7 linked regions of the Homo sapiens genome follow. The protein of the gene in region 1 purifies or fractionates together with the protein of each later gene. This does not show direct contact. Each region holds a gene or a part of one and is shown on either strand. Other genes may lie near its edges. The genes, in order: CBR4, NDUFAF5, GATB, TARS2, CRAT, PRORP and LARS2.

The links.
Region 2: the proteins of CBR4 (region 1) and NDUFAF5 purify together in Homo sapiens (affinity purification with mass spectrometry; one large-scale study listed by BioGRID and IntAct). This does not show direct contact.
Region 3: the proteins of CBR4 (region 1) and GATB purify together in Homo sapiens (affinity purification with mass spectrometry; one large-scale study listed by BioGRID and IntAct). This does not show direct contact.
Region 4: the proteins of CBR4 (region 1) and TARS2 purify together in Homo sapiens (affinity purification with mass spectrometry; one large-scale study listed by BioGRID and IntAct). This does not show direct contact.
Region 5: the proteins of CBR4 (region 1) and CRAT purify together in Homo sapiens (affinity purification with mass spectrometry; one large-scale study listed by BioGRID and IntAct). This does not show direct contact.
Region 6: the proteins of CBR4 (region 1) and PRORP purify together in Homo sapiens (affinity purification with mass spectrometry; one large-scale study listed by BioGRID and IntAct). This does not show direct contact.
Region 7: the proteins of CBR4 (region 1) and LARS2 purify together in Homo sapiens (affinity purification with mass spectrometry; one large-scale study listed by BioGRID and IntAct). This does not show direct contact.

Annotation. Positions count from the first base shown.
Region 1 is NC_000004.12:169,000,256-169,003,755, reverse strand, and holds part of CBR4 (3-oxoacyl-[acyl-carrier-protein] reductase), read left to right. Parts: intron 1-1,550; coding exon 1,551-1,685; intron 1,686-3,500. UniProt on the Homo sapiens protein: Component of the heterotetramer complex KAR (3-ketoacyl-[acyl carrier protein] reductase or 3-ketoacyl-[ACP] reductase) that forms part of the mitochondrial fatty acid synthase (mtFAS).
Region 2 is NC_000020.11:13,795,028-13,798,527, reverse strand, and holds part of NDUFAF5 (arginine-hydroxylase NDUFAF5, mitochondrial), read right to left. Parts: intron 68-3,500; coding exon 28-67; intron 1-27. UniProt on the Homo sapiens protein: Arginine hydroxylase that mediates hydroxylation of 'Arg-111' of NDUFS7 and is involved in the assembly of mitochondrial NADH:ubiquinone oxidoreductase complex (complex I, MT-ND1) at early stages. May also have methyltransferase activity.
Region 3 is NC_000004.12:151,716,008-151,719,507, forward strand, and holds part of GATB (glutamyl-tRNA(Gln) amidotransferase subunit B, mitochondrial isoform 1 precursor), read right to left. Parts: coding exon 3,418-3,500; intron 1,068-3,417; coding exon 869-1,067; intron 125-868; coding exon 2-124; intron 1-1. UniProt on the Homo sapiens protein: Allows the formation of correctly charged Gln-tRNA(Gln) through the transamidation of misacylated Glu-tRNA(Gln) in the mitochondria. The reaction takes place in the presence of glutamine and ATP through an activated gamma-phospho-Glu-tRNA(Gln).
Region 4 is NC_000001.11:150,500,919-150,504,418, forward strand, and holds part of TARS2 (threonine--tRNA ligase, mitochondrial), read left to right. Parts: intron 1-3,416; coding exon 3,417-3,500. UniProt on the Homo sapiens protein: Catalyzes the attachment of threonine to tRNA(Thr) in a two-step reaction: threonine is first activated by ATP to form Thr-AMP and then transferred to the acceptor end of tRNA(Thr). Also edits incorrectly charged tRNA(Thr) via its editing domain.
Region 5 is NC_000009.12:129,100,794-129,104,293, forward strand, and holds part of CRAT (carnitine O-acetyltransferase), read right to left. Parts: coding exon 3,395-3,500; intron 2,274-3,394; coding exon 2,220-2,273; intron 1,773-2,219; coding exon 1,607-1,772; intron 1,265-1,606; coding exon 1,090-1,264; intron 1-1,089. UniProt on the Homo sapiens protein: Catalyzes the reversible transfer of acyl groups from carnitine to coenzyme A (CoA) and regulates the acyl-CoA/CoA ratio. Also plays a crucial role in the transport of fatty acids for beta-oxidation.
Region 6 is NC_000014.9:35,178,052-35,181,551, forward strand, and holds part of PRORP (mitochondrial ribonuclease P catalytic subunit isoform 1 precursor), read left to right. Parts: intron 1-2,618; coding exon 2,619-2,726; intron 2,727-3,500.
Region 7 is NC_000003.12:45,521,076-45,524,575, forward strand, and holds part of LARS2 (leucine--tRNA ligase, mitochondrial), read left to right. Parts: intron 1-2,921; coding exon 2,922-3,033; intron 3,034-3,500.

The sequences.
Region 1 (3,500 bases):
TTCCATGGTGTATATGTGCCACATTTTCTTAATCCAGTCTGTCATTGTTGCACATTTGATTTGGTTCCAAGTCTTAGAATAAGACAAAATTTGCCACATTGATTGACTCTTCATTTCGTGAGAGATTTCTCTGCAGCATGTGATGCTGTTTGATAGCATTTTATGCAAGTAGATCTTTAAAAATTGGAGCCACTCCTCTCAATCCCTGCTATTGCTTTATCAACTAAGTTTATAGGATATTCTAAATCCTTTGTCATTTCTTTCAACAGTATTCACATCTTCACAAGGAAGAGATTCCATCTTGAGAAACAACTTTGTTTATCCATACATAAGAAGCAACTCCTCACCCATTTGTTTTATCATAAGATTGCAGCAATTCAGTCACATCTTCAGGCTCCACTTGTAATTCTGCTCCACTGAAGTCTTGAACCCCACAAAGTCATCCATGAGGGTTAAAATAACTTCTTTCAAACTTCTGTTAATGTTGGTATTTTGACCTGCCATGAATCACAAATGTTCTGAATGGCATATAGAACGGTGAATCCTTTCCAGAAGGCTTTTAATTTACTTTGCCCAGATTCCTAAGAGGAATTACTATTTATGACTGCTATAGACTTATAAAATGTTTCTTAAATAAGACTTGAAAGTCAGAATTATCCCTTGATCCATGAGCTGAAGAAAGGATATTGTGTTAACAGGCACGAAAACAACATTAATCTCCTTGTACATATCCATCAGAGCTCTTTGGTGACCAGATGCATTGTCAGTGAGCAGTAATATTTTGTTTGTGGCACCCCAACAGCAGTAAACATCAAGAATCACTGATCACAGATCATTATAACAGATGTAATAATAATGAAAAAATTTAAGATGGTATGAAAATTACCAAAATGTGACAAAGAGACACAGAGTGAGCACTGCTCACAGTGAGCCATGGTGTTGGAAAAGTGCTAATAGAATTGCTTGTTGCAAGGTTGCTACAAGCCTTCAATTTGTTAAAAAAAAAAAAAAAAAATGCAATATCTGCAAAGCACAATAAAGCAGAACAATAAAATGAGTTATGCATGTAATTCAATTTTAGTGAGATTTAGCTTCAAATGAACTAGTTTTTAGGGTGAAAACGAGAGCTTTCTGCCTTATGTCTGTGTTGTAGAATCATAAAATTAGTCAGCTTTTGTCTGACTTTTTCTGGCTTTAACCTCTACCTGCTGGAAGCCTTTATAAATACCACAGAATTTTCATCATATCTGACCTACTCAGAGATTAGAGTGCATCCCCTTCACGTAGTGAATCAATTCGCAAGCACCTGCATTGGCAGTTTTGTATCAGCTGCTTTCAGATGCTATTTTCTGTATGTATCTGGAGCAGACTTGGACTCTTAAATCTTCCGTAAATGACTGATGACAATGGTTAGAATTTCTAATTTTAACAAAGGACAAGGTGAAGTGGGTTTTACCTTTTTGTTTACTATAAATTATCTAAATTTTCAAGTAACCCCATTAATTGAATTTAATACGCTTTTTTTTTTTTTTTTTTTTTTTTTGTCCTAGGAAGCATTGTTGGCTTAAAAGGCAACTCTGGCCAGTCCGTTTACAGTGCCAGTAAAGGAGGATTAGTTGGATTTTCACGTGCTCTTGCTAAAGAGGTAGCAAGAAAGAAAATTAGAGTGAATGTAGTTGCACCAGGTTAGTGAAAACTTTATTAAAATAACTTGATTATGATTATTGTTTTATAGGGAAGCCATTATTTGGAACATTAGTAATTGACATCTGGGTAGAATAGTTTGTAAAATGATTGTGAAAAGAATCAAATAATGAACTGGGGGACTCAAAAAAATTTTTTGTACCTCATATTCTATATAAAGTCTATGTGTTAGCCTGTTTGCATTGCTCTAAAGGACTGTCTGAGGTAATTCATAAAAAAAAGAGGCTTATTTGGCTCTCGGGCCTGCAGGCTGTACAAGCATGACACCAACATCTGCTCAGCTTCTGGTGAGGCCCAGGAAACTTTTTTTCAGTCATGGCGGAAGGTAAAGAGGTAGCAGCCAAGTCATATGGGGATAGCAGGAGCAAGAGAGAGAGGAGGTGGCAGGCTCTAAACAACCAGCTCTGGCATGAACTAACAGTGAGAACTCATTATTTACCATGTGGAGGGCACCAAGCTATTCATGAGGAATCCGCCTCCATGACCCAAACACCTCCCGCTAGGCCCACCTCCAACATTGGGAATCACATTTCAACATGAGATTTGGAGGGGACAGACATCCAAACCATAAGAGTCTTTATTTTTAAATTTTGCACTAGTGGAATAACTTAAGGTGGAGAGGGTCTTAGAAATAATTTTTTCCAGTCATTTTTGTAGATTAGAAAACTGTACCTGGGATTCAGAGTGACTTGCCTAAGGTTACACAGCTAGTTTATGGAAGAACTGTTACTAAAAGCTTTGTCTTTTGATTTCCACCTAATGGGAGCTTAAAAATAATGTCCTACCAGGTATGGTAGCTCATGTGGGAGGCTGAGGCAGGAGTATTGTGAGGCCAGGAGTTCCAGATCAGCCTGAGCAACATAGCAAGATGCTGTCTGTACCGAAAAAAAAAAAAAAAAATTAGCTGGGTGTGGTGGTGCACACCTATAGTCCCAGCTATTTGGGAGGCTGAAGCAGGAGGATTGCTGGAGTCCAGGAGTTGGAGGTTGCAGTGAGCTATGATCATGCCATTGTACTCCAGCCTAGGTGACAGAGCGAGACCCTGTTGAGACCCTGTCTCTATAAAAATTAAAAAAAAAATTCTTTTTAGATTTTCTTTATATCATTACACAAACTTTAGATAGTTTTGTCCTTTTACTACTATGGTCTGTCTAAACTATCTGGAACCTCCCATTTTCCTAATTTTTACTTTTCCATTATTTGCCTTTCGCCAGGGTACTAGTTGATAAAATTGCCTGGATTAATGAAGAGGGTAATAAAAAGGTGCTAAAACTCAAAAATATATGATCACTAATTAGCTGGTGTGCTAGAAATTTTGATTAGGTATTTACTTGGTTTTTGAGTAACACAAGTGTTTTTATCTACCTCTGCCAGTTAGCCATGGAATCTTTGTCCTAGCCTACTGTAGGTACTTAAGAATTAATCACCTATATAAGAAAAGGCAGTTTATTTTGGTTTGCTGGTCCTTTGTAAGAAAGAGAGGGCTGAAGTAGACCTTTGCTACCTTTCCCTTTCCGGTCACTAATGGCTCCAGCTTGGACCTTACAGTTGGTGTTTTCTTTGGCACTGAAGTTGAGCCAGCAGGTATCAGGGATTTATCAAAATATCCTATTAACCCTTTTGGTCTATAGTGTGTCTTTATTTCAATTCTTTTCTTTTCTTTTTTTTTTTTCTCATAGCAACTAGCTACATTCAGACATTCTAAATCTATGAATATTTGATAAGTGACTGTGGTTCAGATACATCTATTTGCTGGGAGTAGGGAGAGAAAGAAAAAGAAAAAACAATCCAGAAGC
Region 2 (3,500 bases), on another chromosome or scaffold:
TAGTTGAATGAACATAAGTTTTCTTACCTGCTCAAGTGCTCTAGGAAGGTCATTCACCCAATGCAAACTAAAATATGAGAATACAGATTTGTTTTAGCTTAACTGGCACAATTAATTAGTAAAATTATCACCAGGTTAATGATAACCCATAAAAAGGTGTTAATTTTGAAGTTTAAAACTGCATATCCAAATCCACTGATCGTTTTCATACAGGTTTTAAAATTATAAATATTCCTAGAGGAAAACCTGCCTTGTGTCACACCAGAAAATTCCCCATGTCAATATATCACTTTGCGTAACTGAAAGAATCTGATATGATTATTTTCTAATTATTCATCACTGAATTATGTAAAAGTCATTCCTACTTAGGCATTTTATCTAAACGGTGCTATTCTGAGACCTTATTTGCAAAAAGTAGTAAAAATGCTCAAAGAAGCTCATCAGTTAAATCAATTAAGCTACAGAAATATAGTATTATTCTAAGTCAGACTTTCTTAGAAAAAAATTATCTGCAGATCTAAATTTTTTCAAGGCAAACAGTGTAACTCATCAAAAGTTTGAATCTGTGAGTTTTCCAATAATATCCCATTTTTTAAAAAATCAATTTTTAAGACTTTATTTTTAATTATTTTTGGAGCAGTTTTAGGTTTACAGCAAAATTAAGAGGAAAACCCAGAGATTTTTTTACATACTCCTATTCCCACACATGCACAGCCTCCCCCATTATCAATATCTCCAGAGTGTATATTTGTTACAACTGATGAAGCTATACTGATAAGTGATTATCCCCCAAGTCCATAGTTTACATTAAGGTTCACTTTTGGTGTTGTATATTCTAAGGGTTTGGATAAACGTGTAATGTCATATATCCAATATTATAATAGTATCATAGAGTAGCTTTACTGCCCTAAAAATCCTCTGTGCTCCACCTATTCATCCTTCCCCTACACAACCCCTGGCAATCACCAATCTTTTTCACTGTCTCCAGAGTTTGCTTTTTCCAGATTGTCACAGTTGGAATTACACACTATGTAGCCTTTTCAGATTAGCTTCTGTCATTCAGTAATACGCATTTAAGTTTCCTCCAAATATTTTAATGGCTTGACAGTTTCTTTTTAGTGCTGAATAATATTCTGTTGTTTGGATACAACAAAGTTTATCCATTCACCTACTGAAGGACATCTTGGCTGCTTCCAAATTTTGGCAATTATGAATAAGGCTACTATAAACATTTGTGTGCAGGTTTTTGCGTGGACGTAAGTTTTCATCTCCTTTGGGTAAACACCAAGGAGCATGCAATCGCTGGATCGTACGCTAAGAGTATGTTTAGTTTTGTAGGAAACAACCAACCTATCTTGCAAAGTGCCTGTACCATTTCGCATTCCCACCAATAATGAACTCCACATCCTTGTCGCATTTAGTGTTGTCAGTGTCCTGGATTTTGGCCATTCTAGTAGGTGTGTGGTACATCCATTTTTTAAGGTGATAAAAACAAACAAAAACCAGAGCTGTATACACTGAAACTTAATCTCTTAAATTTTTTCCTTTTTTGAGACAGAGTCTTGCTGTTGCCCAGGCTGGAGTGCAGTGGCGCGATCTTGGCTCACTGCAACCTCTGCCTCCCAGGTTCAAGTAATTCTCATGCCTCAGCCTCTCGAGCAGCTGGAATTACAGGCATGCGCCATGACATGCAGCTAATTTTTGTATTTTTAGTAAAGACAGGGTTTCACCACGTAGCCCAGGTTGGTCTTGAACTCCTGGCCTCAAGTGATCTGCCTGCCTCGGCCTCCCAAAGGGCTGGGATTATAGGCGTGAGCCACCGTGCCCGGGCCTTGAATTTTCTTTTGACCCTACTCTCACCTAGAGTGTAGTCATGCGTGACAGCGAAAGTCATATTCCCAGTCTCCTTAGAGTACGGTCACACTTTTCTGGTATAACTGCCTCCCCTTATGCTGAGTTCCAGGACAGAACTGAATGTCCATTTCAAACCATACTGTGTTAAGCTCATGTTTATCTTTCCTAATGCTTTTCGACAAGTATTAGATACTTTAAAAACTAAGGAGCTCATACTATAAACTCTATCATACTTATGGGAAAACAGAAAGCAACAGAATTAGTCACCTGCAAATAGCAAGCAGATGAGCTAACATAAAAACTCAGGTTCTGACTCCCTGCCCAGGGTTCTTTATAGACCAAGGCTCTGCATATTTTTCATTTCATGACAGAATGTGAGTAGTTTTCTAACTTTGTTCAGCACATCTAAAAAACCAGGGAAGGAATTACACACTCACGAAAGAAAACATCAAGGGTGACCAGCTTTCCCAGAACATAAGACTTTCAGGCCAAAAGTGGCAAAGTCCTGGGCACACCTTGATGACTGGTCACCCTAAAAACAGCTATCGAAAGAGTTGAACTGGACGTGGAGAGCCTGCTGAACTTCTGAAAGAAAATCTATTTGACTATAAGACAGGAGAAAGAAGATACCACAAAGATATTTTTTCTGTTAGACTGAGTTATTTGAGGACAGGATCCCTAATTCATTTTTGTATTCACCCAAAAATCTGGCTCAGTGCCTTGTATCCTATAACCTATTTGATATATACTTGCATTACATGTTTGTGTAACATATGTGGAGGAAGATAGTAGAAAACATAAAGGGAAAAGAGTAATCTTGAGAACTACATTCTGGTACAGAATTATTATTATTTTGAGACAGGGTCTTGCTTTGTCACCCACGCTAGAGTGCAGTGGCATGATCATGGCTCACTGCAGCCTCAACTTACCAGGCTCAAGTGATCCTCCTGCCTCAGCCTCCCAAGTAGCTGGGACTACAGGCATGCGCCACCTTGCCCAGCTAATTTTTTAATTTTTTGTAGAGATGGCATTTCATTATGTTGCCCAGGCTGGTCTCGAACTCCTGGGTTCAAGCAGTCCTGTTACTGCAGCCTCCCAAAGTGTTGGGATTGCTGGTGAGAGCCACTGTACCTGGCCAGAAGAATTAAGGCTAAAGGAAAACTAGCTGTCCTAGTTTGAGTTTGTCCAGAATGAGTTTGTCCAGAATTTGTCCAGAATGAGTTATGATTGTTGGGAGCAGGAGTTTGAAAGAATATATTCTATGCTCTCTGGTGGAGATAATATGATATAGTGCCTCAACTTTTTTTTCCCCCAACTTGCTAAACTCATCTGTGATAGAAGGGTTTTCTCCCCAATGTAACTTATTATTTTGGAATTGCTCTAACATTTGAATACAGGAGCCAATATGCTCTTTCAAACTCCTGCTCCCAACAAGAGCAATTCCAAAATATTAAGATGCACTGGGGAGAAAAACCTTCTATCACAGATGAACTTTAGGAAGTTCATGCATGCCACCACGCCCAGCTACCTTTTTTGTATTTTTAGTAAAGACAGGGTTTCAACATGTTGGCAAGGCTGGTTTCAAACTCCTGACCTCAAGAGATTCACTCGCCTCGGCCTCCCAAAGTGCTAGCATTACAGGCGTG
Region 3 (3,500 bases), about 17 Mb from region 1:
CCTGCCATGTTCGCCTGGCTGGTCCCCAGGGCTTGAAGGATCAGCTGCAGCTCCCTGACAGCTGTTGCCGCCTCTTCTCCACAGGACATGTCGGGCTCCAGGACCACCTCCAGAAGGCCCACTCCTACCAAAGAGGGGCAGAGTCAGCCTCACTGCAGCTCTCCAATTTCACCAACAGAAAAATTAGGCCTAAGTTTCAGGAAAACCCTGCCTTACTGAAGGACTCTCAGAGTGGTTCTAGCCTCTCAATCATTTCTCTTCCCTCCCACCTTTTTTTTTTTTTTTTTTTTAAAGAGGCGTCATCTTGCTCTGCTGCCCAGGCTGGAATGCAGTGGCATGATCATAGCTCACTGCAGCCCTGAACTTTTGAGCTCAAGTGATCCTCCCACCTCAGCCTCCTGAATAGCTGGGGATACAGGTGTATGGCACCACACCTAGGTGTTAATTTTTTGGCAAGTAGGTCTCGCTATGTTGCCCAGCCTGATCTCAAACTCTGCGTACAGTGATCCTCCCACAGCCTCCTGAGTCACTAGCATTACACGTGTAGGCACCTAGGCTCCACGTTTTGATTTTTAAATGTTTCACTTCTTTTAATGACTGCTTAAAATATCCAGCTGCTGGGTCTGTGACTAGGTGGATAGGTTTGTCTAACTTCAGGGTGAGTTATTAGCAAGCCTAATAATTACAGTTCAAGCCATGTTCGCTAGTCAGCTATGCCAATCCCAATGCTGATATTTTAGTCTCCATCTATCAGGCTCCTGTGACTGCTTTCTCAATTTGTTCAAGAAAACTCTAGCGGTGAAAAGAGGGCCCTGCTATCCAAGAACTGAAGTAGGAAGGAGAAATAATGAAAACACTCCAAGCCTACCTGCCCTGTTCAAATCAATGAGCGTCTGAGACCTCAGGTTGTCGTGGAGGCTTTTGCCACTGTCTTGCTCCAACTGGATCTGCTTGATCCTCACCGTCTTGGGGATCACCTGACTCTGCTTCTTCCCTGCACAGACGCCATATATCAAGCTCCCATTCACAGCAATTGGGAGCCTCTGCTGGGTAATTTGGTAGCCTGCCTGCACACAAACATAGGGTAAACATAGTCACTGGTCCACACATAAAAGCTGGGATCCAGTTTACTATCCCTTTTACAATGTCACACAACGACAGGCCTACTTAAAGCAAAAACAACAAGAAAAAAAGGAAAAGGAGAAAAAAATTAGTTGCTGCATTGCAGCCATCATTGAGCCTGGTCTCTTCTGCCCCTGCCATCACCCCTTCACCCTCCCCAAATCCTCCACCCCTGATAACGATGCAATAAACAACACGAATTCATCCCATTGCCCTCATTAAAGTGCTGTATTGGGGAATAACAATAATGTCATTGTCAGGGACCCCTAAGAAAAGAATTTATTGTTTCCATCCAGCTCATTAGCCTAAACTCTGCATCTCATTACCAGGCTCCTGGCAGACCCTCCTTATTTGGAATGCTGGCTAAGCATTTTGCCATCTACTCTCCACACGGCCAACAGCAGTTGCTAGTGTGTGTTTAAGCTTGTTTTGTTTCTGCTTTTTAAAGGAATCAATCATGGCAGCTGCCCTCCCTGACCCAACCTCCCTAGCTCCTCCAGTCAGAAAATGCTGTGACACTCCCCCTCCATTAATGGAAGGCACATGGTACTAAAGCACTGATGGATCCTGCAAGGATCCCTCACCTGCTTCTAAGTGGAAAGGAAGAATTACTTGCAAACGCACAGAGGCACCAATACGCACTAAAGAGACAGCAGGTCAATGAGGAGAATTGGAGAAGAACAGAGAATAAAAGCAAAGGCATCTGTGGCACTTCCTAGGTCCCAGGTGCTGCTCTCACTGTGTTCCCTCAGTTAATTCCACAACAACCCTAGGAAGGAGGAACAAGGCGTGGAGGGATTAAGACCTTGCCCACAGCCACATACAGAGCTAGTGAGCATCAATGTCAATGTCTGAATTCAGATGGTCAGGCTCCAAAATCCGTGTCTTTCACCACTTGGCAGGCCCCCAGTTTAAGAACTTTAACTGCATCAGAAATACTACTGTGCTTGTCAAAAGACAGACTGCTTGGCCCGACCTCAAAGGTTTCCGATTCAGTAGGTCGAGGGTGGGGCCTGAAGATTTATATTTCTTACCAGTTCCCAGGAGATGATGATGTCAGTGCCCTGGGGACCACACTTTGAGAATCCTGCAAAAGGCTAACCCGTTTTCTATGCTGAGACGGGAAGTCTCAATTTGTAAAACTAAGCTCTGGGTAGGGTTGTTGGATAAAATATAGGACACCCAGTTAAATCTGAATTTCAGAAAAAACAACAAATGCTTTATTATATGAGTATGTCCCATGAAACTCTGGATTATTTGAACTATCTGGGCCAGAAAGACCAGAAAGCCACAGATGACCAAAACATCTCATTTTAGTCATATTATTACTAAATCTCCCACCTCAACCAAACTGTCTGTCACTCTTAAAAGATAAAGAAAGGCGGTTTAATTCTTTCCGCCCTACCAAACAGTAGACTTGCTGAGAGGCTGGAGGCCAGAGGGGAAAAGCAGCAGCCACTGGAGAACGCAGGTCTTACTTGTATTTTTTATTTAATTCTACTCGTGCCCTCACCCACTAAAAAACAGCTCGCCCCAATCTTCAGTTCAAGGAGAAAGAGGTGAAGCAACATCATCACTGTTGTTTTTCTGAATCAGACCAAACAAAACATTATTTTGGGAAACCCATTCAACATTTCAGTTTTGTTCCTGTTCAATAGTATGAAAAATTGGCTCTCACTCACATGGTGTGGCTTAAAGAAAAAAACCTTTTAATTTTCAGAAAAAAGCGGGTCAATATGGAGTTTACTGCTCAGCCAAGTAACTGGACCAACAGTTTACTGTTCTTGGTCCAGATTTCTGGTTCATGTTTCCGCTTACTATTGTCCACTTACTTGCTCCTTGTGAGATGACAGAAATGTCTCCAAAGGAGACAGCCCTATTATTGGGAACTTCAACTTAAAAGCGATTCGCTCTCGCTCTGCTGACAGAACTACAGTATGCATTTACTGTTGCATCAGCCAGAGCCTTAGCTTTTGTACTAACAGGCAATTAGCACCAAATACCACGGCCAGGCTGAGCCTGCAAACACTGGCTTCTACTCCCTGTGCAATTATGAGCGAGCCACCAGAAGCATGAGGTAAGCAAGAAGTCAGCAATCAGGACAACTGCATCCGATCTAGTAACCATCAGGGGCACCTGCCTGCATCAGGGCTGGGCCGAACTTCCTGCTGGGATGGACACAGTGCTGGCTGAAAACATGAGAGGCACAGCCCCTTTCCCTTGCTCCGACCCCCCACAGCAGGGCTGGCCCAGCTCTGAGAACTTGCAGTGGGGTGGATCACAAAGTGTACTTACAGGGAGGTCTGCATAGAAGTAGTGCTTCCTGTCAAACAAGGACTTCTTGTTTATGTGGCAGTTCAGAGCCAGGCCTGTCATCA
Region 4 (3,500 bases), on another chromosome or scaffold:
AGGTTTAAGGTAGGATTGAGAAGCCTTCATAGAAGGGATCACCATTGCCATTGTATCCAGGGTGGAAGGAAAGGCTGAAGGTAGATGCAAGGAAGTTTGTAGGCATGGTAACAGGAAGTTGAGGCTCTTCCCATCCCATGGTATCAATTATCTGAATTCTTCATGAGGCAGGATCATTTGCTGAAATGAGAGTGGAGAAGAGGAGAGTTGTCAGTGAGGGGGCTGAAGATATGAAGAAAAGGCTGTGTGCAGTGGCCCCCTCTTGTAATCCCAGCACTTAGGGAGGCTGAGCTGAGATGATCACTTGAATCCAGGAGTTTGATACCAGCCTGGGCAACATAGTAACAGGGCATCATAATAAGACCTCGTCTCTACAAAAAAAAATTTTTTTTTTTTTTTTTTTTTTTTTTTTTTATTGAGACTATGTCTCGCTCTGCTGCCCAGGCTGGAGTGCAGTGGCTCGATCTCGGCTCACTGCAAGCTCCGCCTCCTGGATTCACGCCATTCTCCTGTCTCAGCCTCCCGAGTAGCTGGGACTATAGGCAGGCACCCATCACCATCACCATGCCTGGCTAATTTTTTTCTTTTTTTTTTTTTTTAGTAGATATGGGGTTTCACCGTGTTAGCCAGGATGGTCTCGATCTGCTGACCTCATGATCTGCCCGCCTTGGCCTACCAAAGTGCTGGGATTACAGGCATGAGCCACTGCGCCCGACCGTCTCTACAAAAAATTTAAAACAAATTTTAAAATTAGCTGGATGTGATGGTGGGCACCTGTAGTCCCAGCTACTCAAGAGGCTGAGGTGGGAGGATCACTTGAGCCCAGGATTTTGAGGCTGCATGAGCTATGATCAAGGCACCACACTCCAGCTTGGGTAACAGAACAAAACCCTGTCTCAATAAAATAAATAAATAAAAAGATAGAGAAAGGAAATTACTCAAGAACTGTTATATAGCTAAAATCTTTTTTTTGTTTGTTTTGTTTTATTTATTTATTTTTATATATTTTTTTGAGATCAAATTTTGCTCTGTCGCCCAGGTTGGAGTGCAGTGGCGCAATCTCGGCTCACTGCAACCTCTGCCTGCCAGGTTCAAGCGATTCTCCTGCCCCAGCCTCCCGAGTAGCTGGGATTACAGGCATGTACCACCACGCCCGGCTAATTTTTGTATTTTTAGTAGAGATGGGATTTCACCATGTTGGCCAGGCTGGTCTTGAACTCCCAACCTCAGGTGATCTGCTCGCCTTGGCTTCCCAAAGTGGTGGGATTATTACAGGCATGAGCCATCTTGCCCAGCGTTTTTTTCGTTTTTGTTTTTTTCCCCGAGACAGACTCTTGCTCTGTTGCCAGACTGAAGTGCACTGGCGGATCTTGGCTCACTGCAACCTCCACCTCCCAGGTTCAAGCGATTCTCTTGCCTCAGCCTCCCGAGTATCTGGGACAGGTGTGCACCACCACGCCCAGCTAATTTTTTTTTTTTTTTTTTTGAGGCGGAGTTTTACTCTGTCGCCAGGCTGGAGTGGAGTGGCACAATCTCGGCTCACCACAACCTCCACCTCCTGGGTTCAAGCGATTCTCCTGCCTCAGCCTCCCCAGTAGCTGGGATTACAGGCACCCGCTACCACACCAGCTAATTTTTGTATTCCCTTTTTTAGTAGACGGCATTTCACCGTGTTGGCCAGGCTGGTCTCGAACTCCTGACCTCAGGTGGTCCACCTACCTCGGCCTCCCAAAGTGCTGGGATTACAGGAGTGGGCCATGTGCCTTGCCTGGCTAAAATCTTTTGAGTACTCAAAGTTGCTGTTGACTGTGTTGGGGTCTTTTATTCAGGTAACATGTGTATTCTCATTTTTATGTCCCAAGTGTTTATTCCAGCATATGGTATTTATTTACCTGCTTCACTAAGTAGTTAGTAAATTAAAATATTAACAGTAATGAAAGTGTGTCTTCTGATTTATTTCAGCAATAACAGTAGGCAAATAAAATATCTTTATTACTAAGAAAAAAATTGAGAGAGGTTAAACAATGTGCTTAAGGTTACAGATATAACAGTCATAAAGTGTGTATTATGTTGAATCAGTCTAATAAGTTGCTGGCTCAGATACTGCTATAAAAAGAGAGAGCAAAAAACTGGAACATCCCTGAGGAGAACAGAGCATAGAGCTTATTAGGGCAATCCAAAGGATTGCTGGCAGCAGACAGGGACCAGCTGAATCTCGAAATACTGACTTCCATGGTGGCATCAATCTCTGCATTTGCATCTGTGTGGTTTGTGACATATTGGGCAGCACTGAGCAGTTCTCTTGCAGGGCCAAAGATGTAGGAGGCTAAGGTGCAGAAGAACAATGAATGGTACAAAGGGAACTAGGGAAAATGGTACAGCTTCATGGGATAAGAAACAAAGGTGGGAGGGGCCTGAGGATGGGAGAGAAAAAGAGGAGTTAAAGAACCGGTGGGTTGAAGTGCCATTAATAGGAATAATTGTCATGGCCGGGTGTGGTGGCTCACACCCATAATCCCAGCACTTTGGGAGGCCGAAGTGGGCAGATCACTTGAGATCAGGAGTTTGAGACCAGCCTTGCCAACATGGTGAAACCCCATCCCTACTGAAAAAAAAAAATACACATATGTGTGTGTGTGTGTGTGTGTGTGTGTGTGTGTATATATATGTGTGTGTGTGTGTGTATGTGTGTATATATATGTGTGTGTATATATGTGTGTGTATATATGTGTGTATATATGTGTGTATATATGTGTGTATATATGTGTATATATATGTGTGTGTATATATACACACACACACACACACATATACACACACATACATATATATATGTTAGCTGGGCGTGGTGGCATGTACCTGTAGTCCCAGCTACTCAGGAGGCTGAGGCAGGAGAGTCGCTTGAACCCGGGAGGCGGAGGCTGCAGTGAGCTGAAATCGTGCCACTGCACTCCTGTCAGGGTGACAGAGTGAGACTCTGTCTCAAAAAAAAAAAAAAAAAAGGAATAATTCTCAGAGCTGGCTGACCAAGAGACAGTAATCAGAGTAGGGTGTCTGATGGACAGTTTCAGAGGTACAGCCATTGGGGGAGATGACAGGATAAAGGGTGTAGCCATAGATGGGTGGTGGTGAAGATCTCTGAGATGAGGAGCTCAAGGAATTGAGAGGCCAGGGTGTGGACATCAGGTAATATTATAACACCATTATTAGATGGAGAGAGCTGCTGAGAACTACTGCCAGAGTGAGTTGAGTAGAGTGAACTGGAGGGGTAGCGTATGATAGAGCTAGGTGACATGATGAAGGTAGTAGCCCGGGATGAGGGTAGGTTAAAGGGTGGGATGGCACAGGTAATGGAGGATAGTGGTTCTGGATAGTGCTTCTGGCTTATCTCGTGCCTTCCCATCTGTTTCCTGTAGATTGACGTGCACCTCCACGATGCCCTGGGCCGGCCACATCAGTGTGGGACAATTCAGCTTGACTTCCAACTGCCCCTGAGATTT
Region 5 (3,500 bases), on another chromosome or scaffold:
TGTACCTCTCTGGGATGAGGAGACCCCCCACCTCGCCGGCCCTCCAGGGCATTCACCAAGTGCAGGGTGTGGGTTCAGAGCTTCGAACTCAACAGGACCCTGCAGGCCCACAGCACTCCTCGAGGCAGGGCCCAACACCTGGCCCACTTTAGACACAGGAAACCGAAGCCCAGGGGTCACATGGGAGCTGGTGTGGCAGCCGGGGAACCCACACAGGTGGTCTGACTTTGGGGTCAATGCCCCTGAGCAAGACATGCTTTGGAGGACTGCTGGTACTTGGGGGCACAGGGGGTGTGGAGGCGGGTGGGCTTCTCAGCCAGAGGACTTGGACTCTAATCCTAACTTGCTATTTAGCTGAGAGAAACTACCCTAACCATGAGGTGTCCTCAACTAGGACATGGGGCCCACATTGCCTGCTCCACGTTGAGAGGATGCAGCGGGAAACATGTCTGCCCATGGCTGTGCGGGGCCCAGCATGCCGGGGGAATGTTGGGAAAAGGACTTGTGGGGTGCCTGTATAAACTGGCCATAAAAATAGGGGACAATAAGTTGTGGAAAGCCAGAAGAGGCCACGGAGGAGGAAAGCCTACTAATTGCCATCATGTTCCCATGCTCAGAGCGAGACCCGCTCTCCTATCTGTAAACACTGTGTTCAAGGAGAAAGACACTCCTTTGAAACACTGGGAAGTGGACAGATGTGCAGGCTCCTAGTTAAGCCCGCTCCCACCAGCTACTCTCCGATAAGTTAAAGACACGCTGTTTGAGCACAAAGGAGATTCATTTAAACTGCTATTGCTATAGATTATGCCTCCTATGAGGCACTGCCTCCCTTTCACTGTTTCGCCCTGAACATGTGCTTCTTAGAGCTAAGTGACTGCACTCAATAGTGTGGAGACCAGAACTCTGCGCCTTTTGCAGCCTCCATTTTGCAACTGGCCCCTGGCTCCCACCTTCATGAACTCTTAACCTGTCTCTTCTCATTCCTTTGTTGCCAGCAGACTTCGGGTACCCTACAGGTGGAGTTGAGGCTGGTCCCCAACAGGGGAAGAGGCCTGGGTGTGCAGCCCCAGCACGGCCCCCAAGAGGCACCTTTGATGAGGGTGTTGTATGCCTTGGCCCAGGAGTTGCGGTGGTTGGAGGTGAGGATGCCCACAGGCTCCTTGTTGGTCTGTAGGGATGAGTTCCAGATCTTCTCCAGCTGCACAAAGATCTGATCCGCAGTGAGGGGTGTCCCGTCACTGTGGTACACATCCAGCTCAAAAAACTGTTGGGGCACAGGCAGGTAAGAGGAGGGAGCTGAGTGGGGACCTCAGGCTGAGAGCAGCCACCTCCCCACACCTGCCTCCTCCTGGCCTTGGCCTTGGAGGGGATGGAGTCAGGCCAAGGGTGAGAGGGGGAGGAGGTCCTTGGATCACCCTTCTGGGCTGGGCAGGCCCACGGCCCCTCCTGGCCTCCCTGGGCCCCCAATGGAGAAGCCAGGGGCGCCCATTCCTGGGGCACGTGGGCACGTGTGCTGGGGAACCCCAGTGGGGAAGCCGACTGCGGCCGTCCGGCTGTACTCCTGCAGCAGGGCCGGGGCTTGTAGGTGTGGGTGGGGGCCACCCACCTGGTAGTTGTGTACCACGGTGATGTGCGTGGGAGGCTTCTTGGTCTTGCTGAAGTTGCTGACTGTGTCCTGCTTGGGGCCCGGCACTCGGCAGGAGGACAAGATCTGATAGTACTGGTTCATGCACAGTGGCTTCCCCCCCAGGTACTCCACGGGCAGGGTCTCGCTATGGGGTAGAGGGGCAGTGAGGCCACCACTGGGCAAGTGAATGGGGAGGAGGGCAGGGTAGACAGGGACCTGCTAGGTACTGCTGGGGGCTCACACAGTGTCCCTGCTCCCACTCCCAGATGAGCAGGACACCTCAGGGCTGTGCTGTGGGCAGGGGGCTCGCTTTCTGCCCCAGATGGGCCCTGTTCAGAAGTCATCTAGAAACTCCCTCCTTTCCCCTCTCTGGGCTTCAGTTTGTCACAGGGGAGATGAAGCAGCGAATAAAACTCTGGGGTCCTCTTTAGTTGGGATGGGACAGGGTCACCCACCAAGAGGAGATTCCAGCAGCTGGAGCAGGGCCCAGGGCCCAAGCTGGCATGCCGGGCCAGGGCTGGGGTCAGAGGTGGCTGTGGTAATTAAGCAGGCCTGGGCAGGTGTGGGGCTGGGCAGGGGTGGGGATGCTCACTTGTCAATCATGACCTTGAAATCCAACACACCCTCAATGAGTTTGGCAGCAAATCTGGAAAGATTGATTAGAGATTAGAAGCTGCGTGGACACCCTGAGGGAGGCCCCGGGCTAGGGACACCTGCTTGGGGAGCGGGAGGTCTAGTCTTCCAGCCTCTCTCACCGCTTCCAGAAAGCCTGGGAGCGCAAGGGAGGGGCCTGCGAGTCCCAGCTTGCCAGCCTGTGTGTGCTTCTTCATAACCTCTAGAGGGAGCATGGTCGGGAGGGCTCGGGGAAGTGCTGGTGGCCAAGGGCCTAGTAGGACTTGGGTGCTGGCCCCCTGCAGCTGGAGTGTGGCTTGGTTAGGGGTCAGTGGGCTGGGTCTACCCACAAAGGGCCTGAGCTCCTGAACCTCAGCCTAGAATCTGGAGGGGGTGTCATCTGCTCTGAAGCATCGGTTCTGGAGGCCCCGGGCCCCTGGGGTGGTGTGATGGGAGAGCAGTGGCTCCGGTGTTCCCTCCACTAGGTCCCTTCCCCACTCTGGGCCTCTGTGTCCCCCAGGCCGCCTTCCTCCCAGGGCTGTCTGGCCCATGGCAACCACCCTCAATGCTTGGGGCCGCCCCTGGATCCCACCATGGGGACCAGTGGCTGGAGTTCCTGGGCCTGAACCCCGGCCCTTCCCAGGGTACCCTGGTCCCTTTAAGAGAAGCAGGTGGTGGCAGCCAGTGGCTGGTCCTTGGGCAGGAGATCCTTGTCACTGGTATTTTTATCTCTGGTAGGACTGGAATAGGGGCTGGGGCAGGTGACCTGGCTGAATGTGGAAAAGAGGACTGTGTACAGAGGTCACCCCTGTGGCTAGCTGAGAAGAGTGGAAAGGAGAGGTGAAGTGCTAAAACTGGGGTCGGGGAGAAGCCTCAGGTATGGAGGAGGATGGGGCCTCTGCGAAGATGTGGTGGTTAACAGCCATGAGGCTTTAGAGCTGGAGAGACCCTGCTTCCTGAATGGGGTCTTGGGCAGCTCCCTTCCCTGCTCCGAGCCTCAATTTCCCCATTTGTAAAATAGGGAGGATGCTCCCTACTTCATAAGGCTGCTTGTGGGGCAGAAAGATAAACAGGGTCGGGGCCCCTCCAAGCGGCTGGGCGAAGTGAACTCGAGGGGCCCGGCTGCCTCCTGGCCCCCAAACCCCAGCCACTCACCGGAGCTGACCCTGCAGGTCCACGAAGTCCTGCTTGGGTAGCATCACGCCTGGGCTCGAGTAGATGACCACAGGCTGGCGGTACTGGAGGTAGGCGGTCTTGAGCC
Region 6 (3,500 bases), on another chromosome or scaffold:
GTTGAGTGAGTTTCTTAATCCTGAGTTCTAGTTTGATTGCACTGTGGTCTGAGAGACAGTTTGTTATAATTTCTGTTCTTTTACATTTGCTGAGGAGTGCTTTACTTCCAACTATGTGGTCAATTTTGGAATAAATGCGATGTGGTGCTGAGAAGAATGTAAATTCTGTTGATTTGGGGTGGAGAGTTCTGTAGATGTCTATTAGGTCCGCTTGATGCCGAGCTGAGTTCAATTCCTGGATATCCTTGTTAACTTCTGTCTCGTTGATCTGTGTAATGTTGACAGTGGAGTGTTAAAGTCTCCCATTATTATTGTGTGGGTGTCTAAGTCTCTTTGTAAGTCTCTGAGGACTTGCTTTATGAATCTGGGTGCTCCTGTATTGGGTGCATATATATTTAGGATAGTTAGCTCTTCTTGTTGAATTGATCCCTTTACCATTATGTAATGGCCTTCTTTGTCTCTTTTGATCTTTGTTGGTTTAATGTCTGTTTTATCAGAGACTAGGATTGCAACCTCTGCCTTTTTTTGTTTTCCATTTGCTTGGTAGATCTTCCTCCATCCTTTTATTTTGAGCCTATGTGTGTCTCTGCATGTGAGATGGGTCTCCTGAATACAGCAACACTGATGGATCTTGACTCTTTATCCAGTTTGCCAGACTGTGTCTTTTAATTGGAGCATTTAGCCCATTTACATTTAAGGTTAATATTATGTGTGAATTTGATCATGTCATTGTGATGTTAGCTGGTTATTTTGCTCATTAGTTGATGCAGTTTCTTCCTAGCATCGATGGTCTTTACGTTTTGGCATGTTTTTGCAGTGGCTGGTACCGGTTGTATCTTTCCACGTTTAGTGCTTCCTTCAGAAGCTCTTTTAGGTCAGGCCTGGTGGTGACAAAATCTCTCAGGATTTGCTTGTCTGTAAAGCATTTTATTTCTCCTCCACTTATGAAGCTTAGTTTGGCTGGATAGGAAATTCTGGGTTGAGAATTCTTTTCTTTAAGAATGTTGAATATTGGCCCCCACTCTCTTCTGGCTTGTAGAGTTTCTGCCTAGAGATCCGCTGTTAGTCTGATGGGCTTCCCTTTCTGGGGAACCTGACCTTTCTCTCTAGCTGCCCTTAACATTTTTTCCTTCATTTCAACTTTAGTGAATCTGACAATTATGTATCTTGGAGTTGCTCTTCTTGAGGAGTATCTTTGTGGCATTCTCTGTATTTCCTGAATTTGAATGGTGGCCTGCCTGCTAGGTTGGGGAAGTTCTCCTGGATAATATCCTGCAGTGTTTTCCAACTTGGTTCCATTCTCCCTGTCACTTTCAGGTACACCAATCAGACATAGATTTGGTCTTTTCATATAGTCCCATATTTCTTGGAGGCTTTGTTCATTTCTTTTTCCTCTTTTTTCTCTAAACTTCTCATCTTGCTTCATTTCATTCATTTCATCTTCCATCACTGATACCCTTTCTTCCAGTTGATCGAGTCGGTTACTGAAGCTTGTGCATTCGTCACGTAGTTCTCGTGCCATGGTTGTCAGCTCCATCAGGTCATTTAAGGACTTCTCTACACTGGTTATTCTAGTTAGCCATTCATCTAATCTTTTTTAAAGGTTTTTAGCTTCTTTGCAATGGGTTCGAACTTCCTTCTTCAGCTTAGAGAAGTTTGATCGTCTGAAGCCTTCTTCTCTCAACTCATCAAAGTCATCGCAAAGCTTTGTTCTGTTGCTGGCGAGGAGCTGCGTTCCTTTGGAGGGGGAGAGGTGCTCTGATTTTTAGAATTTTCAGCTTCTCTGCTCTGTTTTTTCCCCATCTTTATGGTTTTATCTACCTTTGGTCTTTGATGATGTTGACAGACAGATGGGGTTTTGGTGTGGAAGTCCTTTCTGTTTGTTAATTTTCCTTCTGACAGTCAGGACCCTCAGCTGCAGGTCTGCTGGAGTTTGCTGGAGGTCCACTCCAGACCCTGTTTGCCTGGGTATCAGCAGCGGAGGCTGCAGAACAGCGAATATTGCTGAACAGCAAATATTGCTGCCTGATCGTTCCTCTAGAAGCTTCGTCTCAGGGGTACCCGGCCGTGTGAGGTGTCAGTCTGCCCCTACTTGGGCTACTCGGGGGTCAGGGACCCACTTGAGGAGGCAGTCTGTCCATTCTCAGATCTCAAACTCCGTGCTGGGAGAACCACTGCTCTCTTCAAAGCTCAGTTGAAAGTGCAGAAATCACCCATCTTCCGCATCGCTCACGCTGGGAGCCGTGGACTGGAGCTGTTCCTATTCGGCCATCTTGGAACCGCCAGTTCATTCTTATCATAACTATCATGTGGGTTAATTTAGAAGTCTAGATAGGCCAGCTGCAGATCAAATGAAATTACATATGAAAGTGCTTTGTGCAGTATAAAGCACTATGAGATTATAGAGTGTATTGGATAATTGTATGCAGTTGCATCCATTAGACTGGCTTTTTCAGATTTCATTTGTAGAGTATCTGTGTGTGTGTGTGTGTGTGTGTGTATTTTTAAGGGATGAATATTTTGAATTATCAAAACAATAATAAAGGTCACTGCAGTGTGTTTATAATAAAGTCCTTACTGAGTTCTTATTAATGTTTTGTCTGACATTTCTTTATTAGGAACTTAAGAGATTTGAGAACTTCATAAAATCTCGTCCTCCTTTTGATGTTGTCATTGATGGTCTCAATGTTGCCAAAATGTTTCCTAAAGTTCGTGAATCTCAACTTGTAAGTATAAGTTTTACTTTGTTATTCCACATCTCTAGAAATATTTATTATACCCATTTATGACCTTCTTGGGGCTCTTAGCTCCTCAGTTTTTCTTCCTCTAAAACTAAGGTCTTCAGGGTGCCACAGTGACCAACTGCATGCTCCCCTAAGATTTACTATTTTCATCACTAATAAGTCGCTCTTCAAGGCTGGGAGAAAACAATTAAAAGTGAGGAATTAAAAGAAAGATTGCAATACAGGGCCAGATTTTCCCGTTTCGTGTAACCTTTAGCTAACCTTCTCCTGGGTCTCTGCTTTCTCTTTGGGGTCGCTCTGTCATTTCCCTTTGGGTCATATCCTTATATTTGAAAATTATCAATATACAATATCAAGAGATATTAATCACTCATTACTCACATTTGTTTTTTCCAAACATAGTATGTTCATAAATTAACCTAAGCAGTTTTTTTTTCTATATGGTAGCCATTTGTTAATTTATAAATGCCCTACTAGTTTCTAATAAGACTATCATTTTTCATAGCTGCAATTAACAGTTACTTTAATCTCTATTTTGTAGATTAAAAAATTGAGGCTAATTTTGTATAGTAAATCTATAGAAAACAGTCATAACATCAAAATTAGATTGTAGAGAGCTCCTGGGTTTCAGACTTGTGGCTCTTATCATTGGCAATCTATAGCCATTCATCTGTAATTAAACTATTTCTTAAAAATTGCTGCCGCTGGCTGGGCACAGTGGCTCATGCCTGTAATCCCCAGCACTTTGGGAGGCCA
Region 7 (3,500 bases), on another chromosome or scaffold:
AGGCGGATCACGAGGTCAGGAGATCAAGACCATCCTGGCTAACACAGTGAAACCCCATCTCTACTAAAAAATACAAAAAATTAGCCAGGCGTGGTGGCAGGCACCAGTAGTCCCAGCTACTCAGGAGGCTGAGGCAGGAGAATGGTGTGAACCCAGGTGGCGGAGCATGCAGTGAGCCAAGATCACGCCACTGCACTTCAGCCTGGGCGACAAAGCAAGACTCCGCCTCAAAAACAAAGTAAAAAAATAAAATAATTAGCCTGGCATGGTGGCATACAGCTGTAGCTGTAGCTACTCGGGAAGCTGAGGCGAGAGGATCGCTTGAACCCATCCTGGGCAACAGAGCAGGAGACTCTGTCTCTAAAAATAAAATTAAAAGGGTAATTTTTAAAAAGTAAAATAAAGATAAAAAAGAACAATGGAAGAAATTTCAAATTTGACTACATAAAACTTGACATTTTCAGTATGTTAAAAAAATTTATAACATGTCAGACAGAAGGTTAATATCCTTGTAAAGCACTCTTACATATTAATATGAAAATACCTAACCAAAAATGGTCAAAGCATATGAAAAGATAATAACTCATAGAAAATGTTATAGAAATAGCCAATACATTTGTGGAGAAAAAAAAGTCTGCCTCTCTAATTATCATGAAAGGCAAATTTAAAACAAGATGCTTTTGTTTTTGTTTTTGTTTTTTTTTAAATACCTGTCAAATTTGCTGAGAATACTTTAACGTAACTATTCAGGGCCAGGCACAGTGGCTCATGCCTGTAATTCCAGCACTTTGGGAGGCCGAGGCAGCAGGATCGATTGAGCTCAGGAGTTTGAGACCAGCCTGGGCAACATAACAAGACTTCATCTGTAAAAAATTTAAAAATTAGCCAAGTGTGGTGGCATGCACCTGTAGTTCTAGCTACTCAGGAGGCTGAGGCGGGAGGATCCCTTGAGCCCAGGAATTTGAGGTTGCAGTGAGCTGTTTGGTGCCACTGTACTCTAGCCTGGGTGACAAAGCGAGACTCTCTCTCAAAAAAATAAAAATAAAGGCATAATTATTCCCCATGCTATTGCAAAGATGGCAGAATAGACTTTTACACGCCAGTGATAGGTGTGGTTGGTGTAACCTTGCCAGGAAGCACTTCGGCTATCAGGTTGATTGTGTTATATCCTCTGATCCAGGAGTGTTCACTGCAGATAATTTATAATCACAGAGACTCGGAACCCCAGTGTCCTCTGATGGGGGAATTGTGAAATGACTTATGTCATATCAATAAGAAAGGAATGTGCCACCACCATTAACCTCATGTCTTGAAGAATACTTAATATCAGAAACTGTTTATGATATAATGTTAAGTAAAAACACATGACACAAGGCCAGGCACAGTGGCTCACGCCTGTAATCCCAGCACTGCGGGAGGTCAAGGCAGATAGATCGCTTGAGGTCAGGAGTTCAACACCAACCTGCTCAACATGGTGAAACCCTGTCTCTACTAAAAATACAAAAAATCAGCCAGGGTGTGGTGGTGCACACCTGTGCACCTGTAGTCCCAGGCACTCAGGAGGCTGAGGCAGGAGGATTGCTTAAACCTGTAGGCAGAGGTTGCAGTGAGCTGAGATCACACCACTGCACTCCAGCCTGGGCAACAGAGAGAGACTCTGTCTCAAAAAAAAAAGATACAAAAGTGTTCATATGAGCTGGGTGCAGTGGTTCACACATGTAATCCTAGCATTTTGGGAGGCCAGGGCAGGCAGATGGCTTGAGCCCAGGATTTCGAGACCAGCCTGAGCAATATAGTGAGATACCCCATCTCTATTTAAAAAAAAAATTAATTTTTAAAATTAAAAAAAAGGAAGTGTTCATATGGCAAGAATACCAATCCTGAAAATGTTACATGTGTAATAAGCATTTATATACACATTTTTGCATTTTTGGAGACAAGGATAAAATATACCTTTTTTTCTAGGTTGTATAATTATGAGTAGTTTTTCATTTCCTGTATATTCTGTGCTGAGTGTGTGTTAGTTTTTTAATCAGAAAAAATAAAGCAAGACACTGAAATGAAACTGTAATGAATTTCTGTCTTTCCATTCCGGAATTTGGGAAGTCCTTAATAATAACACACAGAGCTAAACACAACTATGTTTGCCGGAATTGACCAAAGGTATTTCAGAGAATAGGGGTCCCTAAGTAGGGTATAGAGGCCCCCCTGCCCTAGGTGTTTCACAGTTTAACACCTTTGAGCAGGTCTCAGTGCATTTCTCTGTGGACCTGCAGCACAGAGGAAACCTAGCAGAGTGGGTAAGAGTTTGGCTACAGTGTGCCTGGGGGCAGATTGCCCTCCCTTGCTGATCCTTAGCTGCTTCATCTGTCCAATGGGGTAAGAATACCACCCTCAAAGAGTGGTGAGGACTAAATAAGTTAACATCATGTATTTGTTGTTGCTGCTGCTGGAGCTTTTTTTTTTTTTTAAAGATAGGGTCTCACTGTTGCCCAAGCTTCAGTGCAGTGGTGCAGTCATAGCTCACTGCAGCCTTGACCTCCTGGTCTTAAGTGATCCTCCCACTTCAGCCTCCTAAGTAACTGGGACTATAGGTGTGTGCAACTGTGCCTGGCTAATTTTTTTTTATTTTTTAATTTTTCATAGAGATGAGGTCTCACTATAGTGCCCAGGCTGGTCTCAAATTCTTGGCCTCCCAAAGTAGTGGGAGTATAAGTGTCAGCTACCACACCTGGCTTGCTGTAGTTTATCTCAGTGCTATCATTAAGTAGGGGAAGTTCATTGTCCCAAGCAGAAATGGATGGCAAAGGGGGTTTCTTCCTACCAGCTTGTGTCTCTGGACTTCAGATACATTAATGGTCTTTCTTACCCGTGCTTATTTTTACACCTCAGTCTTCTTACTTTTTTTTCCTCTTCCTTAGCAAGCCTCTCAGAGCGTCATTCTCCACAGCCCCGAGTTTGAGGATGCTTTGTGTGCCCTGATGGTAATGGCTGCTCCACTGGCCCCTCATGTAACCTCAGAGATCTGGGCAGGTACGTGGCAGAGTCCTTTTTTGACCAGTTACTACTAACTAGAATTTGTCGAAGCCTCTTTTTGAACATCATTCGGGACTCAGATGTCCTCAGATATAGGGTCCAACATTTGGCATCTATACTCAGCAACCTCTCTGTCCTGTACTCTGAATGGTAGTACTTCATCCACATGGTCACCCCTACCAAAAGGAAAGACACTTCCCTGCTTTGAATAATGTGCCCAGACTAATGTGGGTGTTGATGTTACCATCTTAATCCCTTCTCGTGACTCAGCCCCCCAGTATCCACATATTATGACCTGCGTGGTCTTTTTAAGATAAAAACTCATGTTTAATACCACTGTACAGGTGGAAATTAAGTTATAGGTCTAAACTTACACTGTAATTCAGCACTCTTCACCAATTATTCCTAATCTAGGCATCAAAGCAGGCCTGACTGCCTGCTTGAATTTCAGCCCCTAGAACCCT